2 separate regions of the Homo sapiens genome follow, and region 2 is linked to region 1. The links come from fine-mapping of genetic effects on gene expression. A gene starts in region 1. The other region holds a variant in brackets. All regions are shown on one strand. Distances are between the middles of the regions. Region 1 holds the start of ZNF536 (zinc finger protein 536). Region 2 has its middle 150 kb from the start of ZNF536.

The links. PIP is the estimated chance that this variant, and not a neighbour inherited with it, causes the effect.
Region 2: its variant is the best candidate, but not a certain one, in a credible set for the expression of ZNF536 in thyroid (GTEx, PIP 0.61).

Annotation. Positions count from the first base shown.
Region 1 is chr19:30,370,594-30,374,992 of GRCh38, reverse strand. It overlaps ZNF536 (zinc finger protein 536), which reads right to left and starts at 2,609. Exons shown (of 5, transcript NM_014717.3): 1 at 2,437-2,609. RefSeq lists an enhancer at 1,064-1,565.
Region 2 is chr19:30,217,515-30,221,913 of GRCh38, reverse strand. No RefSeq gene overlaps it. Among named protein-coding and RNA genes, the nearest start is that of ZNF536, 150 kb to the left of the region's middle. The variant A/T (reference allele first, on the strand shown) is at 2,266.

The DNA.
Region 1 (4,399 bases):
GATCTCCAGGCGCTTCGCTCCTCCTGGAACCAACAACAATGATCCTCAATTAACCCTCTGCCAGGGCTGCCTGCTCGTGAATGGGGCGCTCTTCCGGCTCGCGGGCGGCAGGCGCCCCAGCCCGGGCGGGGGGCCAGTCTCCGCTCCCCCGGCCGGACCCGCGGGGGCTCGCAATCCGCCCGGGCGCCGGCTGGGGGTGGCCTCGCAGCTCCCCCGGCCTCCCTCCAGGATGAAACTCGCCCTCTCTGGAGGAGAGAGGGCAGAGACGGTCCGAGAAGTTGCAGGAGGGAAAGAAAAAAAAACAACACTCAGTTTGTTGTGTTTTCCTTGGGTTTGTTTTCTTGCCAAAAAATTACCCCCTTTGTCTTTGCGCAAAAGAGGCAATCCGGGCACCTTCTGGTGGGCACCGAGGCGGTGCCAAGGCGCCTTTCTTCAGGGCGGTTTCTATTCCTTTTCTAGCCTCACCAGATATATTTTTAACATTAAAAAAAAACACTATATTTAATTGGTTATGGATCTCTGTTCTCTTAGCACTACTGGATATCACAGAAAAACACATTAGTACAGAGCAATTAGTGCAATGGCAGTAAACAACTAAGGCACTATTAAGCTGTGGGTGATTAAATAGTATTACTTTATATTTTTTACGGTGCTAGACTAAAAGATGGAGATTTAAGATATATATATTTCCATTAATATTAATATAAAATATAAATAACAGGTGTCTTCCACTTCTTCTTAAGGTGCAATTTATACCCAGCACTTCAACCTATAGAGAACTACTTTTCTTATTGAAAAAAAAACTCTTTCTTTATACACTCCAGGGCAATATTTCTTATCTTCATGCACCCGGATATTTAAGCAGAAATATTATTTAATTGGAGTTACGGACTCAGGCGAAATAATGCCCATACCTATATCACCATTAAAAAATAATAATAATAAAGCTTCCATCCCATTGAAATACGCTCTATCGTTTCTATCTTTGCAAAGAGCGAATCGGGCATTATGTGGTGAATTGACTGCAGGCCCGGAAAACAGGCGGGCGGCGGGTGGGCTGCGGCCCTGGGGCTGGGGCCGGGCCGCGTGCACCTTGCTGAGGCCCACCTTGGCCCCGGCTCCCACTGCAGCTCAGGCCGCTCCTCCTCCGTGTGTGTAGATCATCCTGGAATTCTGGCACATCTTTCCTCGGCATCTGATTAAGTTAACAATGTGCTGCTATTTGCATGCAGATTTGCCGGGGCTTTCTCTCCAGCTGCTCCCAGAGACTTGGTCTTTCTCTGCGTTGTGATAGCACAGCAGTCCCTAAATGCAATCTTTGTCAGACCCAGGTGTGCTCTCATTGAGGACGCCTTCGTTCCAAGCAATTTTTCTTTCTGTAGCATTTATAAGGCTCTATTATAGTATAGCCACATCTGGAGGAAAATTCTCCTATTAATTATATACTTTTACCACTAGGAAGACACATTCTAAAAGATACCAACATTTTTGTTGTTGTTGTTCTTATTTCTTTGACAGGCTGCATTTTATTTTATTTTGTTTTGTTTTTCCAGGCATTTCAATATTTAAAGAGCCATTAACCAAGGGGTGGGGGGTGTGAATTTCTAGGAAAAAAAAAAGAACAACAGAACTAAAATCTCAGTGTCAGCCCTGCCTTACCTCACAGGGACAAGTCAGGGGAAAGGTGCCAACTGAGAACTCTCAGAAGACCTCCAGGCTGGACAAGGGATTCAGGATGAGGGCCTGGCCAGTGGGGAAGAGTTCCGTTCTACTGGAGTTTAAAAAAAGGTCGGGGGGAAGAAAAGCACAAGTGCTATTAACTTTTAACCTAGTCTTCTCCCAGGTGGACATTCAAGCATGTCACCAAATCGCCAGACAATTTGATTTCTCTAACGTCAAAAAGCAGAACCCAATTGGATCAGCATGGTGATCCCGATGCGGAGTTTTCTTTGTGTGGTATGGTAATTTTTCAATTAGGTTGGAGACAGATTAAAAGCAAAATTTGGAGCTCAGAATTCATGCTCATCTTTCAGAAAGAGACAAGAATCTTTGCCCAGGGAGTCTGAAAGTTACTTTAGAAGCAGGTGGGTTGTTTTGTTTGGTTGGTTGGTGTTTTTGCTTTGTTTTCAAATCTTTTGGTACAGTCAGATTAGATGGGGGGGGCGGGTGATGGAGAGAATTAATGTAGGAATTATAGGAAAAGTTTTAACCATCGGATGGTCCCTTTCTAAATTATAATAAATTTAAAGGGCTATAATTTTTTATTCAAAAATTATTTTGCAAAAGGGTGTGTACTTCGTGAACAAGAATCCATGCATGAGTATGTGCGTGTCTGCATGTGGGTGGGTGCATGTGTGGGTGTTCTATGCTGGGGAGACTGCACGCACACACACTTGCACACACTCACACACTCACACACAAAGAAAGCTGAATTACCTTGAGAACAGGGAAAATGGAAATGGAACCATTTTCACTTTTCAAGACAAACTTCATCAGGTAAAAATCCAAGCAAGGTTTTGGTCACTTGAGTCCAGATCCTATGATGACAACGTGGAAACTCTCTTCTCCAGACTCACCTCCCCTGTTCCAAAGCTGGCCTCAGCAAAATCCCAGGGCCGTGTCCCGGCAGTACCAGGGGCGGCTCCCAGCAGGCCACGTGTGAGCAGCAAAATCACACAAGAGAGGCCTTTCTGAGTCCTGCCTCTGAAGGCTGGAGTCACTGCTCCCAGCTACTAACTGCCTCTGCTCACTGGTGCTAACCCCTTTCCCTCAAAATGACCAATTGTTTTCACTCTCTCTGTACAGAGGCCAGAAAGGCCCTGCAATTAGGGCCCATCTTTGGACCATGCCTCAGCCTCAGTTTTGTCAGCTCTGAAATGGGAAGAGCCAATCCCATCCTAAGTACATGCATGAAAGACTGTCAACCCAGTTCTAAATAGAAATGATAAATAAGGGTAAATTTTACTCTGATTCTTTTTTCTTAGGTCTCATTTCCTCCAAGCCTTGGTGCTGAAATTAACTGCCCTTCTTTTACCTTACGAAAACAAGCAGCGGATTCTAGTTTCATGACACTTAAGGAAGAATCTATGCAAAAAGGTGGCAGATATTAAATGCATAGATTCTTCAATGTATATATATTCTCTCTTTATATATATACACACACACATATATATGCATATATATATATATATTCTCTATATATGCATTTAAACATATAATGCAAAAAGAAATAATTTATTTTCTAATTTGACTCTTTTGGGGCCGCTGCCTTTTCCATCTCCTGCTGGCTGGCAATGCCCCCTCCTTTCCCCTACAGATATCCAGATACCCTCCTGCAAAAATACAGCAGGGAGGCAGATGCAGTGATACTAGATTACATCACTGGATAGCATGTGGCATTGAGGGGAGAGAAAAAAAAAACAAAAAAAAAAAAACAAGAAAAGACAAATGACATTTTGCTGCTATGGTGTGCTATTTTAGTGGTGATGGCTTGACTTTTGGCCCAAACGCATATGCCAATGGCAAGGCTAACTCCAGGGACTCACAAAAAAGAATGTGTGTTCACAGCTGTACTGTACACCAATACAGATTACATGTTTTCAGTGTTGCGGCCACAACAGAATGCTAATTAACATACTGGAGTGATGAGAGCGGCTGCAAAGGCCTTATTGTTCCATTATTTCATGAAGCCCAGCTGCCTTTGTTTATGTCACTTATCCTCTCGTGCCACAGGTTTTTACTCCAAAAATACTATCCCAATACAGCGTTAATATTTAAAAAACAAAGAGGTGGCAGATTGTCATTTTTGTGTCAGTCTCAAACTGCAGAACTGTTAAGCTGTTCTGGTTCGGTATTTAGAAATAATTTAACAGCCATATTCAGACACTGCCTGCATTCTAACATAATGGCTGAATACTTGAACCAAGCAAATGCATAACTATCCTGACATCACTTATGAGATTTAGATTGGTCAGTTAATGGAAGTCTTTACCACAATCAATACCATAACAGCTTCTTGAAATGAACGTGATTTTTTACACGGAGTGCTGCAAACAATAACTACAGAAACATACTACCTTTGTACCCAGCACAAAGAAGCTAAAATGCAAAATTAAGAAGCAATTACGTTTTTGCAAACTAATATTACAGTTGATTATTAAAAACAAACACTTCCAAAAATACGTACTTATCATTTAATAATTGGAGGGCATTAATATCCCCCGTACCTGATTAATCATTTTTTTACACTTTTTAATAGCTGTTTCACCTACTGGCTACATTATCAGCTTGCTGTTAAGTATTGATATTGATGATTGATGTAATAATGATTAAATAAAAAGCCATATTTAGAGCTTGATTTTTATAACATTCTTTGTCATAATCTTCATTCAAGAGAACA
Region 2 (4,399 bases), 150 kb after region 1:
ACTCCTGGACCAGCTCAAAAGCAAGGCTGGGAAGCGCTGCACCAGGCTGGAGCCCATCAGCTCCTTATAAGAAGCGTTCAATCACTCAAAGTGCCTACTTTGAAAGTGATACTGATCACACCAATAGGTTTGTTCTGACCTCTGTCATTCGCGCCTCAAACATGGCAGTGATTCATAAAATGTTATCAAACCATTACTTTGGAGTTGCACTCCTGGTCACAACACTACTCATTTTGTTTGTTTGTTTGTATATTGCTATTCTTTTCCCTTCACTCTCTTCTGCTCCTTATAATCCTGCCTCCTTCATAGTACACCAGGTCTTCTTATAATATTGTTTCCTTCAACATTGTTTCCTTATAATGTAATGAGAAAAAAACATGGATTCCAGCCAGGGCCACTATCTGTGCGGACTGTGTACGTTCTTCCCAGGTCTGCGTGGGTTGTCTCTGGGTACTCACGTTTCCTCCCATGCCCCAAAGACATGCACGGTAGGTGAATAGCCATGTCTGCATGGTGCCAACCCGAGGGAGTGTAGGTATATGTATGAGTGTTCCCTGCAATGAGATGGCATCCTGTCCAGGGCTGGTTCCTGCCCTGCACCCTGAGTTGCTAAGACAGGCTCCAGCCCCTTGAGATGGTGAACTGGAATCATCAGGCTGGAACATGAAACAATGAATGAATATAAATTATTGTCAAATAAAATACATAAAATATATGATAATCATACTAATGTATGCCAAGAAACAGTACAGTACAAAAGTGCTCATAGTTGTGCACTTTCGACTGCACATATTTTGAGTCCACCATATTTGTGATTTTTTGTTTTTCAACTTGGTGGTGGTGAGAGGTACTCCTTACAATTTTCACTTTGCAAACATGTATTCTTTGACTTAACCCATTACTACTATGACCACCCTCACTAATTGATCAAAAACTGGGGTAAGTAATGATCTTACTTGTTTTATTAATGGCTCTTAAATGTATGTATAGCTCATATTTATTTCAATGTTTAGACATGTAGAAGCGCGGTGAAGCTTTGTGACCAGAGACATGCTGTAGGAACTTAACTCTTGTTTGTATCAATCAATCTATGGTAAAACTAGTTTCATTATACATCACTTGCTTAAAGTCAGTTTCCAAGAATCCATCAACAATATTAAGTGAGGACTTGCTGTATAGACAGATTTAAAAGCAGCAGGGAGGGTACCCAAGAGGGCTACATTGGCTCCAGGATGGAAGGGTGGACCAGGACACTTCTGAATCAAGAGGCCAAGTTCCCTCTCCTCTGGAACCTCAGTTTTTCCATCTATATAAAGATGACCTCCAACATCTGTAATACCCCTTTGATCACTCACAGTCAGTGGTTTTAGCACAATGATACCCCTAATCCCCAGGTTATGACTCCCTTCTTCAAGCAGAAGAAAGACGCTAGGTCTGCAAAGGGCCCATGTGTTAGGTGGGGAGTTGGTCTGCATGGCCACAGGGTCCCAGGTGGCCTCCCATGGAGAACCCTGCTTTTCCATCTCAGGGGAGTAGGCGACCATCCTTTACTGGGAGGAAGGCTACCTGGCTTCAGCAAGGAGTTGTCCTGCACTAGGAAAAAGGGTTTTCTATGCTGCAGGGGTCATTTGTCTCTCCACCAAGGCCAAGGTGCAGCCTTTTCTGTCATGAGCAATGCAGTATGAATGACCCTTCAAAGACTCCCTGAGAGCATGATTCAGAAGGGTGCCCTTAGAGGTGGAGGTGATTCCTGAATAAGAAGAAATTGGGGAAGCATCTGATCTGTTTGGCTATTCTGCCATGACCTGTTGGTCCCAGACCCAGGGTGCTGCTGCCCCACAAGCTCAAGAAAAGGTTGTACACCTCTTCCGGTTTTTCCAACAGAGGGAAGAAGTCAGCATAGTGATTCGTGTTGTCCTGGCGGAACATGTCCCTTCCTCCAGCAACAGCTTCACCTTCCCTTCCTGCCTTGCGGGCATCTGGGTGGGGGTCCTGCCCCGGATCCCAGGCAATCAGTGCATCACATCTCTCTGGATTCTGTCATTCAGTAATAGGCATATGGCCTAAGTTGGTCCAATCAGAGTGAATCTTGGACTTTTTTTTTTTTTTTTTTTTTTTGCTAGGTGCTAGTGGAGAGGTTAAACTGCTGGAGAACTGTAGTTTCCATCCCAGCACCAAAAGAACAGAGTCCAGAGTTTTCAGGGGCCACCAAGAGGAGCCAGAGAAGGGTGCCAACACAGTCCGTGGCAGGATGGAGATAGAGAA[A/T]TGGTGCTGCTTGCCTTGTATGAGCCCTGAATCCAGCCACATTTGAAGCCAGCTCCACCCCAGCACCTTTCTGTTTTGTAAGTGGATAAACTTCCTTTAACTTAATTCAGTTTACTTTGGGTTTTCTGCTATTTGCCACAGAATGAGATCTGATAATAGTTAGCACCTGACAAGAACAAAGAACACCTGGGCCAGGGACCAGAGCGCTCAAAAACAAGGCTGGAACAAGGGGCAGAAAAGCAAAGCATGGTCCCTGGTGTTCTTTCCAGTGAATGGGCAAAGAACTTACCAGAATTCTCTTAAAGCTACAGGTGCACCTTGCTTTGCATTAATAGCTCTGTGCCAGAAGAGATGCTTATAAAGTAAATTTTTGTAAATTGAACCTGATTGCACTGGAAGAGCTGGTTATTTAAGGCATCTCAACAGACAATGTCATTTGTAAAATGAATGGGCGTGTCCTAAAATAACAAATTAACAGTAATTTATTTATAATCCTAATTTTCCTACATCAGGCTTTATTGTAAAGCAGGACCAATGTGGATGTCTTCTTGGTGTCTTTGTATGAGTTAGTCAAATGCAAAAAAAAATGTGCTGAGCGGCTGGGCGCGGTGTCTCACGCCTGTAATCCTAGCACTTTGGAAGGCCGAGGCGGGCAGATCATGAGATCAGGAGTTTGAGACCAGCCTGACCAACATGGTGAAACCCCATCTCTACGAAAAATACAAAAATTAGCCAGGCATAGTGGTGTGTGCCTGTAATTCCAACTACTCAGGAGGCCGAGGCAGGAGAATCGCTTGAACCCCAGAGGTGGATGTTGCAGTGAGCCAAGATTGTACCACTGCACTTCAGCCTGAGTGACAAAGTGAGACTCTGTCTCAACAACAACAACAAAAAATGTGCTGAGGTCTATTGAGTATAATTACAACCTCACACACCCACTCCTTTGCAAGGCTGTGGAACAGAAATGTCCTGAATAGATCCTGGACCATCAACTCTGGGCCCTGCAGTTGTCTTCAACAGCTATCATCGGTTTTGAATTAGGTTTGGGGGAAATGTTATGAAGCTAGCGGACTTTCTGACCAGAATGTGGCCTGTGCTTTGTTTTCCTGAAGAGGAGAAATCAATGAAATAGCCCATAGTAAGTTCTAAATTTGGGGGGCTGTTGAGACTACAATTCAGTTGTACTGAATTGTAACTGAAACAAAATATCAGGTTATGAGACGAAACTGATGGTGGGGATCCCAGAACTTATTTTCTTAAGATGTTGATTTCTCTGGTACTCCCTTTCCCATGCTGTAAATGTGCGCATCATGCAGCACATGGCTGTGACCTGGCCCCTTGCTTTTCCAAAGTCCCAATTTTCAGCCCTGGTTTTACCTGGGGAAGAAGTGCAAATTTTGCTTGCCACTACAAATGAAAGGGAGCAAATATTTATAAAATATAGTTTTTTGGAAAAGGTTACAGTTACCCTTTGGCTCATAGATGTGACCTGGTCTGTATGGATTGAACAGAATCACCAGTAACAATCCCCGGGACTTACACGGGTAAATACGGAGCTTTATCGCCTTGTAGGAAGCATTTCTCTACCAGGTAGCAACTTGAAAACAAATGAAAATGAAAAAGTCAGGCAAAAAGCAAGTCCCTGACCCTGGCCAGTGCCTGAGAGCCCTGTGTCACAGCCCGCTTCCATGGAGAGCTGGCCATGGGCCTGTACAGGGAACAGACTGGAGCTCAGGGTGGGTGGTGGGCCAGGAGCCAGGGAAGGACCATCACTATAGAGGCTTTGTTTTAAATCCTGATTCCACCAAAGGGCTTAGTCGAGTCTGGTGGATTTGGGGGAAAGAGAAAGGGAAGCCTCGGAGCAAAGAGATATGTGCTGAAGGTCAAATGCATGTTGATGGTGCCAGGCTCCAAGAGAGGAGTAAAATGCAATTGGATGGTGCGGTGTAGGGGAAATGGGAGGGGCGGCCCCAAGGGCTGAGCTTGTATCCCTGGAGAGTCTCTGGCAGGCTGAATCTGCACTTGCACCCAAGGTTCCTGAGTGCTGTAGATCCCATGGGCCCTACAAAATCCCCCAGGGGGTCCTTGCAACCTGTACTTGGGATGATCAGCTAGCAGATGGAGACTTGGGGTC